3 linked regions of the Homo sapiens genome follow. The protein of the gene in region 2 purifies or fractionates together with the protein of the main gene of each other region. This does not show direct contact. Each region holds a gene or a part of one and is shown on either strand. Other genes may lie near its edges.

The links.
Region 1: the proteins of MMP26 (region 2) and CNTNAP3B purify together in Homo sapiens (affinity purification with mass spectrometry; 2 studies listed by BioGRID and IntAct, with this or other methods). This does not show direct contact.
Region 3: the proteins of MMP26 (region 2) and GDF11 purify together in Homo sapiens (affinity purification with mass spectrometry; one large-scale study listed by BioGRID and IntAct). This does not show direct contact.

The regions. Positions count from the first base shown.
Region 1 is NC_000009.12:42,127,264-42,131,019, forward strand, and holds the start of CNTNAP3B (contactin-associated protein-like 3B precursor), read right to left. Parts: upstream 2,164-3,756; 5' UTR 1,832-2,163; coding exon 1,747-1,831; intron 1-1,746.
Region 2 is NC_000011.10:4,987,752-4,990,480, reverse strand, and holds part of MMP26 (matrix metalloproteinase-26 isoform 1 preproprotein), read right to left. Parts: intron 2,414-2,729; 5' UTR 2,270-2,413; coding exon 2,171-2,269; intron 1,363-2,170; exon of another isoform or gene 1,136-1,362; intron 834-1,135; coding exon 613-833; intron 1-612. UniProt on the Homo sapiens protein: May hydrolyze collagen type IV, fibronectin, fibrinogen, beta-casein, type I gelatin and alpha-1 proteinase inhibitor. Is also able to activate progelatinase B.
Region 3 is NC_000012.12:55,745,996-55,749,651, reverse strand, and holds part of GDF11 (growth/differentiation factor 11 preproprotein), read right to left. Parts: intron 1,067-3,656; coding exon 669-1,066; intron 151-668; coding exon 1-150. UniProt on the Homo sapiens protein: Secreted signal that acts globally to regulate anterior/posterior axial patterning during development. May play critical roles in patterning both mesodermal and neural tissues. It is required for proper vertebral patterning and orofacial development.

The sequences.
Region 1 (3,756 bases), on a different chromosome or scaffold from region 2:
TCCCCTCCTCCAAAAAGAATGTTCACTGTAAATGAGAAGAGCTTAATTTCTATGGGCTTTGTAATCCTTCCACTGGATTCCAAGCAAAATAACTATCAATACAACTAATCCTGAGAATAAAAAGTAATCACAACTATGCAACAAAAACAGGAAAGGTGGTGGCAGGATCTCAGATTTCATTTTTCTCCAGGAAGGTCTTTTTGAAGCCCTGTTTATTCAATAGTAAGAGTGACCTCTAGTGACTTATTTTGTTGTATTTTGCCAGTTGATTGGTCAATTACTCTAGCATGCCTTTCTATAAGTAACTCATTTATGTGTTTATTTAAGCCAAACGGCAGTTTCCATTACAAGACCCAAGGATTTTAATTTAAGTAACAACGTTTTATTCACAAAGCCCTCTCACAAAAGCAGATTAAAGTTGAATCTGAAACACGGTACAGCATCTGACCAAAGCAATCCGGAGCTTGTTTTTTCGAAGGGCACACCAAGTGTAGGATTAACTGAGGCACAACTGAATCATGATGCACAGTGAGTGCATGAACCCATGTGCGTGCCCTGTGTGTGAAGAAACAACCCACCCTTGAGCCCACAGGCAGAACAGCACTGAGCTACGGCAAACTTTTCATGACAGCTTAGGAAAACTGCTGAAAGCTACCCTTGGTTATCCTGCAATAATCTAAATTTCCAAACATGGCCACTAGCATTTATTGGAACTTATTTCGAAAGAGATTTTGGTAGGAGAGGGCTGAGGCTGACAGCAGGGAGATGCCACTGAAAGAAAAATAAAAGTGATTTGAGAAGGAGGAGGAAGACATTTTAAAAATTCTAATCTCATGGTTTCATTAATCAAGAAAGAAAGACGACTCTCTGATAGAGATTTACTCCAAGCCGAAAAAAAAATGTGCAATGTTGTGTAAACATTTTTATGTGTGATAAAATATGGGTACATTATGTTTTGCTCATCTGTCTGGAATATCATCATTATATTAGAATCATAGCCCATTCTAGAAATAAAAGCTTCCTAGGTGTTTACCAAATTAAGTAAAATAAAAAACAGGGAACCCGATGGCAAATTAAATAATGTAAAATATTAGCATCCAGAGAGGAATCATTTTCAAGATCACCTAAATGACTGGCTGAGTTTTGTCTTTAACCAAGAACTTTCTACTGAGAAACGAAGCCCCTGACAGGGGTGTTCAAGTGTTATTCCCTTAGTAGTTAGGGCAGGTTATTAATTTAGTTTCGCCTACAGGCACTCTGTCCCTATACTGCGTGGAAGTTAATTAGCATTTTAACTCTGAAGCTGCCAAGGTCGGCAAAACTGTAAGCTGCTAACATCTAAGTTGATGCAGTATGATGTAATGTCTGCCAGTTTTTTCCCTGTTAGACTTAATTCCTACAAAATATTACAATCCTAAAAAGGAATAAATGACAGCATTTGCAGGCTAATCTCTTATTAAGATGCTCTTTTCAGGTTTTACAGAAACGGCCACTTTCTCAATGAATATTCAAGAACATCGATTAAAAAGTCAAAACATGCATGGTATATCTTAGACTCCCCCACAAGAGGAAAGTCTATTGTAAACAAAATCGTCTTTTTCGGGTTGCAATTCCAAATATTTTTTTAAGGTTCTTCATGTTCAGGAGCATGTTCTGCAATTCCACTTCCAAATATTACCGATAATAAAAAAATACAAAGTTTTCCAGACAGCCTAGCGCAAGTTTTAAACCATTTGCTGTACTTACGTGGATTTCCTGCTCCTACGGGGCTCCAAGTCTGAGTGGGGAGAAGCAGCAGCACCTTGAGGACGGCCCAGGCCACTGAAGCCATGCTCACTTCAGCCAGGCGCCCTGAGACCCGGGCACGGCGACGGCCGCTCTGCGTCGTTCCTGCTCTCACTCCCGCTCTCACTCCCGTCCCCTGCGCGGCTCCGACGCTGCTCTGTCTCCCCTGTCCAGTCTCTAGCTCTCTTCCTCACGCACTGGCAGCCTCCCTCGGCGCTGCAGACCCTCCCGCCAAGCCGCGCCCGGCCCCAGCTGCGTCTCCGAGGTCGGCCCCGCGGGAGCCTGGGGGCCGCGCGGCGCCGCCCCAGGCACGGAGGCGGCAGGTTCAGGCGCGTCCCGGACACTAGGCGCGGGAGGCGGCCGGCACCAACGCGAGTCAAGAAGCGAGCGGGAGGGACGCCCCAGCTCCGCCTGGCGCTCTCCTCCCGTTATACCGGCAGCTTCCTCCGTCCCTCTCTCCCACCGGGGCGGGGCGGCCGCGGTGCACGGACTCGCGCCAAAGACCGCGCCGTCAGCCTCCGCCTGCAGGTGGAGAACGCCAGGCTTTATCACTGCGCTGTTCACCCAACGCAGGGGCTGCACCCAGGAAAATGCTGTCCTGTTTGAGTTCAAATAGGGAAGATGGGGCAGAAATAACTCTGCGGCGTGTACTCGGGCAGACGCGCGCACACTTTGATTTTGCTAGGAATTCTGACTTGTAGAGAACCAAGCTGGGAAACCGGGCCAGGAGCAGGGAGAGGCCGGTGAGCCTGGGTTCTGCAAGTGCAAGCCTTTATTTAAAGTTTTAATATTTTGTCTATCATGGGTTTTTTTTCTTTGCGATTACATTCAATTTTAAAACTATTTCATTCATTCAGGATTAGCGTTACTTAACAGTTGCTCCTGAGACTAGTGCGTTAGTCCCTTCACCCTAGTCCTGGCCTTGGTGGAAGTCTAAAATTTACATTTTATTCCAGCTTTCTGTCCAAAAGAGCAACCCCTGCAAGTGTAGGATGAGGAGCTCAGTCCAGCAGCAGCTAACACTGCACTCCTTGCGCACCTGCTGTGTGCTAGAGGGAGGGGCGGAGGCGGGAGGTGGGAGGCAGGGGGCGGGGGGGTCTTTCTCTTTTTCTCTTCCTCTGCTTCTCAAATTCACAGTAGGGGCAAAGATTGACAAACTCACTCACATTACCACCACCGCGAGTTTCCAAAAAAGAAAAAAGAAAGAAAGATACTAACTTTTTTAGATGGTATCTCTAAGAAATAGTGTATTAATCTTCCCTTTGGAAAGACAACTTTGAAAGGCTTTTTCATTAAAATGAATTCAAATGTAATAGATGTAAAATGTAAAATGAATTCAGATGTAATAGAGGAAGAAACTTACAAAGTCATTCTTGAATTATTAATTGGGTTCACTTAAACTACTTTTGCACAAGAACTCTGTAAATAGCACGTCTTTTATTACAGAAAAAATTATAAATCTAAAGTTTTGATTGACAGATCAGTTGCCTTCAGTGAGACAGAAAGAGAGAAAATGGAAATCATTTTCTAAATTGGACCTAGAGTAAAACAACAAATGTCAATCTATTATTATACCAATTTGTCAGGCATCAGATGGAGTCTTTAAAAATGTGAACTTGGCCAGGTGCGGCGGCTCATGCCTGTAATCTCAGCACTTTGGGAGGCTGAGGAGGCCAAGAGGTCAGGAGATGGAGCCCATCCTGGCCAACATGGTGAAACCCCGTCTCTATTAAAATACAAAAAATTAGCCGGGCGTGGTGGTGCCTGCCTGTAGTCCCAGCTACTCGGGAGGCTGAGGCAGGAGAATCGCTTGAACCCGGGAGGCAGAGGTTGCAGCAAGCCAACATTGTGCCCTGCACTCCAGCTTGGCGACAGAGCCAGACTCCGTCTCAAGACAAAAAAAAAAAAAAGTGAACTTGGGTGTTCAAAGTGTTAGGCTTAATGGAGAAAGGACAAGAAACTTCTACGGTG
Region 2 (2,729 bases):
TATTTATAAAGTTGAGCTAATTTCAGACTAATTAAATCAGAAACTTAAGGAATTAAACATGCAAATATAGATTTCTAAGAATTTTAACAATATCCCAAATTATTCTTAGGTCAGCTAAAGTCTAAGAATGACAGTCCTATCTGGTGGTTGGGGAAAAATAAGTAAATAAAACAATGTGAACAAAATTAAATTAAATTAAATATACAGCATTCTACATAAATTAAAATGTATAGCATTCTACATAATTTAGTACTGCTTGCTTTAGATATCTCAAGTATATTTAGAATCCCCAACAGAAAGAGTAACCTAGGCAGAAATTAAGTTTTCAAAATTGTACCTTAGAACCATCCACACACTCACGCATTAAAATTAAAAAGAAAAGATTTAACAAAGGGAAAGGATAGTGGTTATGCTCTCTACTTTCTAAAGAGATGGTTAGAGGAAGCTAGAAAAGGATCTGGTAGTATTACCTTCTCTGAGGGAGATTTTGGGCTTTGAGCGGGCTGCCAATGAAAGCAGAAGAGAGTAGAGGTACCTCCAGGAGAGACCTGGTAGAAAGCCCTTTGAGGTCATCACCCCACACATTATCCTCTAGGCCTTAGTAACAAGCACCTGTAAGTTAGAGTGTGCTTATTCCACTTGCATCTTCCTGGCGAGATGGAGGTGTCGGACCCATCAGGCACCCCACAGTGGGGCTGGTGTAGCAGAGCATGCATCTGCATGTCAAGTAGGTCTGTCCCATTCCGATGGAATTGTTGCAGGAGCTGTGTTTGTGTCTCCTGGGTAAGGAGTGGCGACTCCTTCTTGGTCAGGAAAAATTGATGGAAATAGCCCTGAATCAGATCAAGAAGGATGAGTACTAAGAGTCAATAGGGAAGACCCATATATCAGTTACCCTGGGCATAGCCTTCTTTGAGGGTCTCAGAAGGACGGTACTTAGTCTGGCCTTCCTAAGTCTCCTGTTCTCAGTCAGATGATGGCAGCCATCCCTGATTCTTTATGCCACAGTGAAATGATATGAATGAGAAGTGACAGAATAAAAATAACATGGATAAACTATAACATTTTTTTAAAAGAAAAAGCTTCCAAGTTTTAGGATGGAGAAACCCAAGTATAAACGACAGGAAGATATTACCTGGGAATTCCCCGGGGAAGATGGCCTCTGGTCTTTCTGACTGATGGAGGTTTTCTTAATCAGGATACAATCAATCACTCCAGGACATAAAATTTGGCTGGTTCTGCATTCCCCATTTCATTTGCATTTACTTCCATTTCATTAAGTTACTTTTAAAGAGCCCGTTGTTTACCTATTCCTTGTCTCCACTGATTTTTCTGCCAGTCTAGTGTATTAAATGTAAACTTCTAAATACAAAAAAAGCACATTGTATTGTAATTAGGCTTTCTCTGTCTGTATTTGAATGCTAGCTGGACTCAAAATACTTTAAGGGCAATGCTCATGTCTGATACAGCTTGATCTATTATTCCACAGTTCTTATGAGTACTTGACGTAAACCTATTGACTGTTTTTTTTAAATTATATGACTGCATTTTTATGCCTTTGTTTTATTATCAGCTGAGCTGGGCACTAAGAGGCAAATGACTTATTGTATTGTTCTGGACTAAACATTAGCAGGAAATTTGACTAGGTTCCTATACAATTACAAAATACATGACTGCAACCAGTTATAACATTTTTTAGGTATTTTGGATGCTTAAAAGTTTGGAGCAAATTCATAATTTTTTTAGAAATTGAAAGTGTGTGGTAGACCGACTGGGAGATTACTCAGTCAATGTGAAGGTCCCATTAATTTATTTGAATGATTTCCCTTGATCTCTCACTCCAGTATATAGATCAGAGACCTATATACTGGAGTGTTCACTCTATGCCATATAGAAGACTAAGAAAGTGAGAGATGAGCAATGGGGCTGAATTAGGCACAGAAGGCACAGTGCCTAGGGCCCAAAAACACTTTTAGGGGCTACAAAAAATTAATTTTTTTCTTAAAATTAGAAGAGAAAAATGAACACATAGATAGAATAAAATGTTTTCATGTGTAATATTAATGTGTGTATTTATCATTATACCATGCAGTCACACATACACACACACACGAAATAAGAGCCCACAATGGTCACCATGTAATAATGTGGTCCTGAGTCGTTCACCTACCTCAACAAAGTCCCATCCTTTATGGTCTGCAGCAGGGGGCACTGGAACGGCGAAACACCAGGGCAAGAAGATAGTAACTCTTAAGATGACGAGCTGCATGCCAAACCCTCATTTGTCCCACTGCTTGAATTCAGGTACACAACTTGGGCCACTGGATCTTTATAGCTGTGCCAGCAACATCCAATGACTCACTCTGCCAGTTTGCCCTTTCTTTGAATCTGTGAGTGGCGTCATCATCCATACCTGCTGAGGGCAGAGTGACCAGCATGCAAGGGTGACAAAAGCAGCCATGGAATTTATTTTTAAGCTCAGTTCACACCTGATGGTCCTCAGCATCCCGGGCCACAGGCCTGGTTAAGGAAATACAGGTCAGTCTCAGAATATAGGGGGCATCATTTTTTAAAATAGGGGGGAAAACAAGAAACAGGAGGTGTGTCGAAACTCATTACAGCTTTATCTATAGAATAATTACCAGTCAGAGACATTCAATCTTGCTCCAGAAGCTAAAAAGAGAAAAAAGAATAAAATCAAGGGAAATAAATAATGTCTGCTGTAATAA
Region 3 (3,656 bases), on a different chromosome or scaffold from region 2:
GATGATCCAGTCCCAGCCGAAAGCCTCAAAGTCCACTGTGAGGGGATATCGGCAGCAGCGGGACTCGCTTGAGTGCTCGTCGCAGTCCAGACCCAGGTTCCGCCGGGAACGTTTTGTGTTCTCTAGGACTCGAAGCTCCATGAATGGATGCTGAGGGTCAGGGAGAGGGGAAAGAAATGTGATATGGTCCTGAACAGTTCCTCTTCCCTGTTCCTTTCCCACCTGCCAGGGGCATCAGAATAGAGACTGCTGACTTCTCAGCTTTTCCATTGCTCCCACCCCCAGAATTTATCTTTTGCCCACTTTTCTTGCCAGCTAGCTAGCTCTCCTTCAACTCACCATCTCTAATTCTTACTCTTCTGGCAACCTGATCCCTGTCAGCCCCTTGGCCCAACGCCTCAACAGCCAGTTTTTTTGTTCTCACAGCTCTTCCATTAACTGACACCTTTACCTTCAAATCCAGTTTTCAGCTGTTGTCTGATTTGGATCCTTGAGAAGTAATAGTTGCCACCCCACTCCTCACCTCCTCCTCTAGAATCAGCTGCTGACCCCAGAGAAGTAATGCTGGTCCCCAACCTCCTTCACATTCCTTGTCTACCTTTTCCAATGTAACCCTATCTCCTCAGGGCCAGGTTACACATATCCACCACCTCAGGCCCCCTGCTCACCAGCCCCTCGGCTCCCGGCCCCAGGGAGGTGACAGCCAGGTCTGTGCCACTGGGATCAAAGGCGTTGATCTCGATGCCCCAGTTGCTCTGTGGCTGGCGGAACCAGCTGTGTAGCACTTGCTTGAAGTCGATGCTCTGCCAATGGCCTGAGCGTGAGTGCAGCTCAATCTTCAGTGAGCGGATACGGATGTGACGCCGGCCTCCGCCCCCTCCCCCTGCGGTCCCTTCCCCAGTTAGGGGTTTTAGTCGCAAGATCTGCAGGTAGACTGTGGCTGGGCGGGGTACAGGCCGTAGGTACACCCACAGCTGGGCCTTCAGTACCTTTGTGAACATCACCTTGGGGCTGAAGTGAAAATGGCAGCAGAGAGGGCTGCCATCTGTCTGTACTGCTGGGTCCGCTGATAAGAGAGAAGGGCACAGCATCAGCAAAGGGTGTTTGTGTAGGGGATCAGTAGTCCTGGGTGGCACTGGCAATTTTGGACTTCTCAGCCTGATTTTCCAGTTCTTCTTTACCCTTCTCCCATGCCTATCTTATACCATGTCTCCGGTACCTAAAACAGCACTTCCTCTTTAGGATGATGGCCCTATAAGGCCTTACTGATCTGTGTCCATTTCCTAATCCATTTGCCCTAATATATAGGTTCCTGTCTACCAGATAACCTGCAAAATTATTCATCCACCACCATCCTTACTGTCCAACTTTTCCCAGCATATAAGGCTCCAACATTTTCTGAATCTTTGAAGCTCTTTATAGAAGCCATACCTCTTATCACACCTGCTGCCCTTCCATCACCTTTCCCCTATCTGCTCTGATTTATCTGCTGGACAGGTAGAGCCTGGCACATCCCTCCCCCACAAAATAACACAGATGGCCTCAGAGAGGGGATAACCCAGGGTCCAGATAGGGAGCATGAGCTAAATTTATCCCATTATGTAAACCAGAATTCAGATCTAGGCTTCTTGCCTCACTCCCATTAGGAATAACACCCAGCAAAATGGAACTATCCAAGCACTTCCTATACATCTGTCTCCCCATTCTCTCTTAAGAAGTTTCTTCAGCTGCTGCTCCATCATCATCACCATGACTGCCCCCAGCTCTTGAGGAAAGGAATAATTACCTCCATGGTGTTGCCTCCTATTTGCCTAAAGCACCAGAAATAATATTAAATACACCAGATTAACTACAATGCCTTTTTTCTCCCCTGAGCTTCCTTTGACTTCTCAGTCTAGTGCCAGTAGGTCTTTACAAAGTTTGAACATCCCAACTTTACATTTTGACCCATTTCCCCTTGCTCTGGACCTTAAATTGATCCTTCTTGGGTCTAATAGATGATTCTCAATAAATATCTGCCTCTGCCTCCATTCCAGCTCCTCTTCACTGCCTTTCCTAAGTCAGTTGGGAGTGTCCTACAACATGTCTCCATTGGACAGAATATGTCTATCCTGACTCTAGATAGGAAGAATCAGGAATGAGCTTCCAGAGCCATATAAGCAGGGTTAGGAAGTCTAGGCCTTTAAGTATCCTCCCCATGTCTTGAGTTCTGCAAAATCAGGATGGACTTAGGGTGTCCTGTCAGCTCTTCCCCACCCCCACCCTGGGAGAAAGAGGACCTTCTAAGGGAGATGAGGAGAAAGTGCTTAATGAACTTCATATATTCAGGATATGATACCCAAAGTCTCTATAGCTTTTTTTTTTCTTGATTATTCTCTGAGGTCCCAGGGCCCTGGTAGTCCAGTTATTTTACTGGCTGGAGCTTCAGTGATGGTGCAATGGAGTAGGGTTTGGGGGGTGAGAATTCAGAGATCAGAAGTAGCTGGGATAGGGAAGCTACTAGTGAGATGGGGAGTGACAAGCAACATCCCAAATAGCATACTTTACAAATTTCAGCATAAGAATTGTCTATTTTCTTGCCATTAGGTACTAATCTCCATGAGAGTGGACACTGTTGTTATTCATACTGTGTCTGTTTTGCTCACCATTGTAGCTTCAGTGCCTCCCATAGTGCTAGACAGCACTCAATAAATACATGGTGAATGAACTCCCTAAACTCCCAATCTTAAATTATACAGGCAAGTGCCTGAAAGTTCTTCCTGGCATCTAAATTCTGTTCTTTGGCTATAATTGAAGTGGGTTTAATCACTGCCTGATTCCTTACTAACCACTATCTAACCTTACTCACCAAACTTCTCAGTGTGATACAGATAATAATAATTCTTGCTTCACATGAGTGCTGAGCATTAACTAGAGAATGTGAAAATAGGAAACAAACAAACCAACATTTATTGAGAAGCTACTACTATTTTCGCATTCTCTACTAAGCTCTAAACATAACCCTCCCTCTACCTAAGCTGATCCAGGGTTTGAAGATGAGGGCTACATCTAAGTCTTTGGTTCCACATACTTGTCCCAGTGGACAGGGGACAGTCAGTGCTACAAGGAGGTAGAACATAGGGAGAAAGAAAAGAGCAGGGAGAAGAGCCAGGGGAGAGACTGGAGATGGTGAGGGAGATAATAGAGAAGAGACTGTTAAGAGTTGAAGGCATATTAGTAGATATAGGGAGAGAAATAGAAGTTAGAGTGGAAAGATGCAGGGGATAATCATGGCAAAGGGAGAATAAGTTTGAGAGTTTGAGAATCCTGATGCAGAGGCAGTGATAGAAAGGAGTGGGTGATGGTTAGAAAGCTAAAGGTGGGAGGAAGCTAAACCTAGTGGGGTAAAGGAGAGAAAGGATAGAAAGGGTACAGACTGAGGAACAAAGGAGAAGCAGGTAGAGCCACAGAGGGAAACGGGGCTCGAGAGAGTACCCAGCACACATATGCCGAGCTCTGATGGGGAGGAAAAGGGGCCACATCTGTGTTGAATTGATCGGGCTGGTGGCAGGCAGCAGGTCAGGTTTAGTAGGCGGCGCTGGTGGGAGAGAGAGGTCACTGCACTATTTTCAGCAAATGCCCAACCCCCTCCCTGCACACCACCTCCCCTTCCCCCC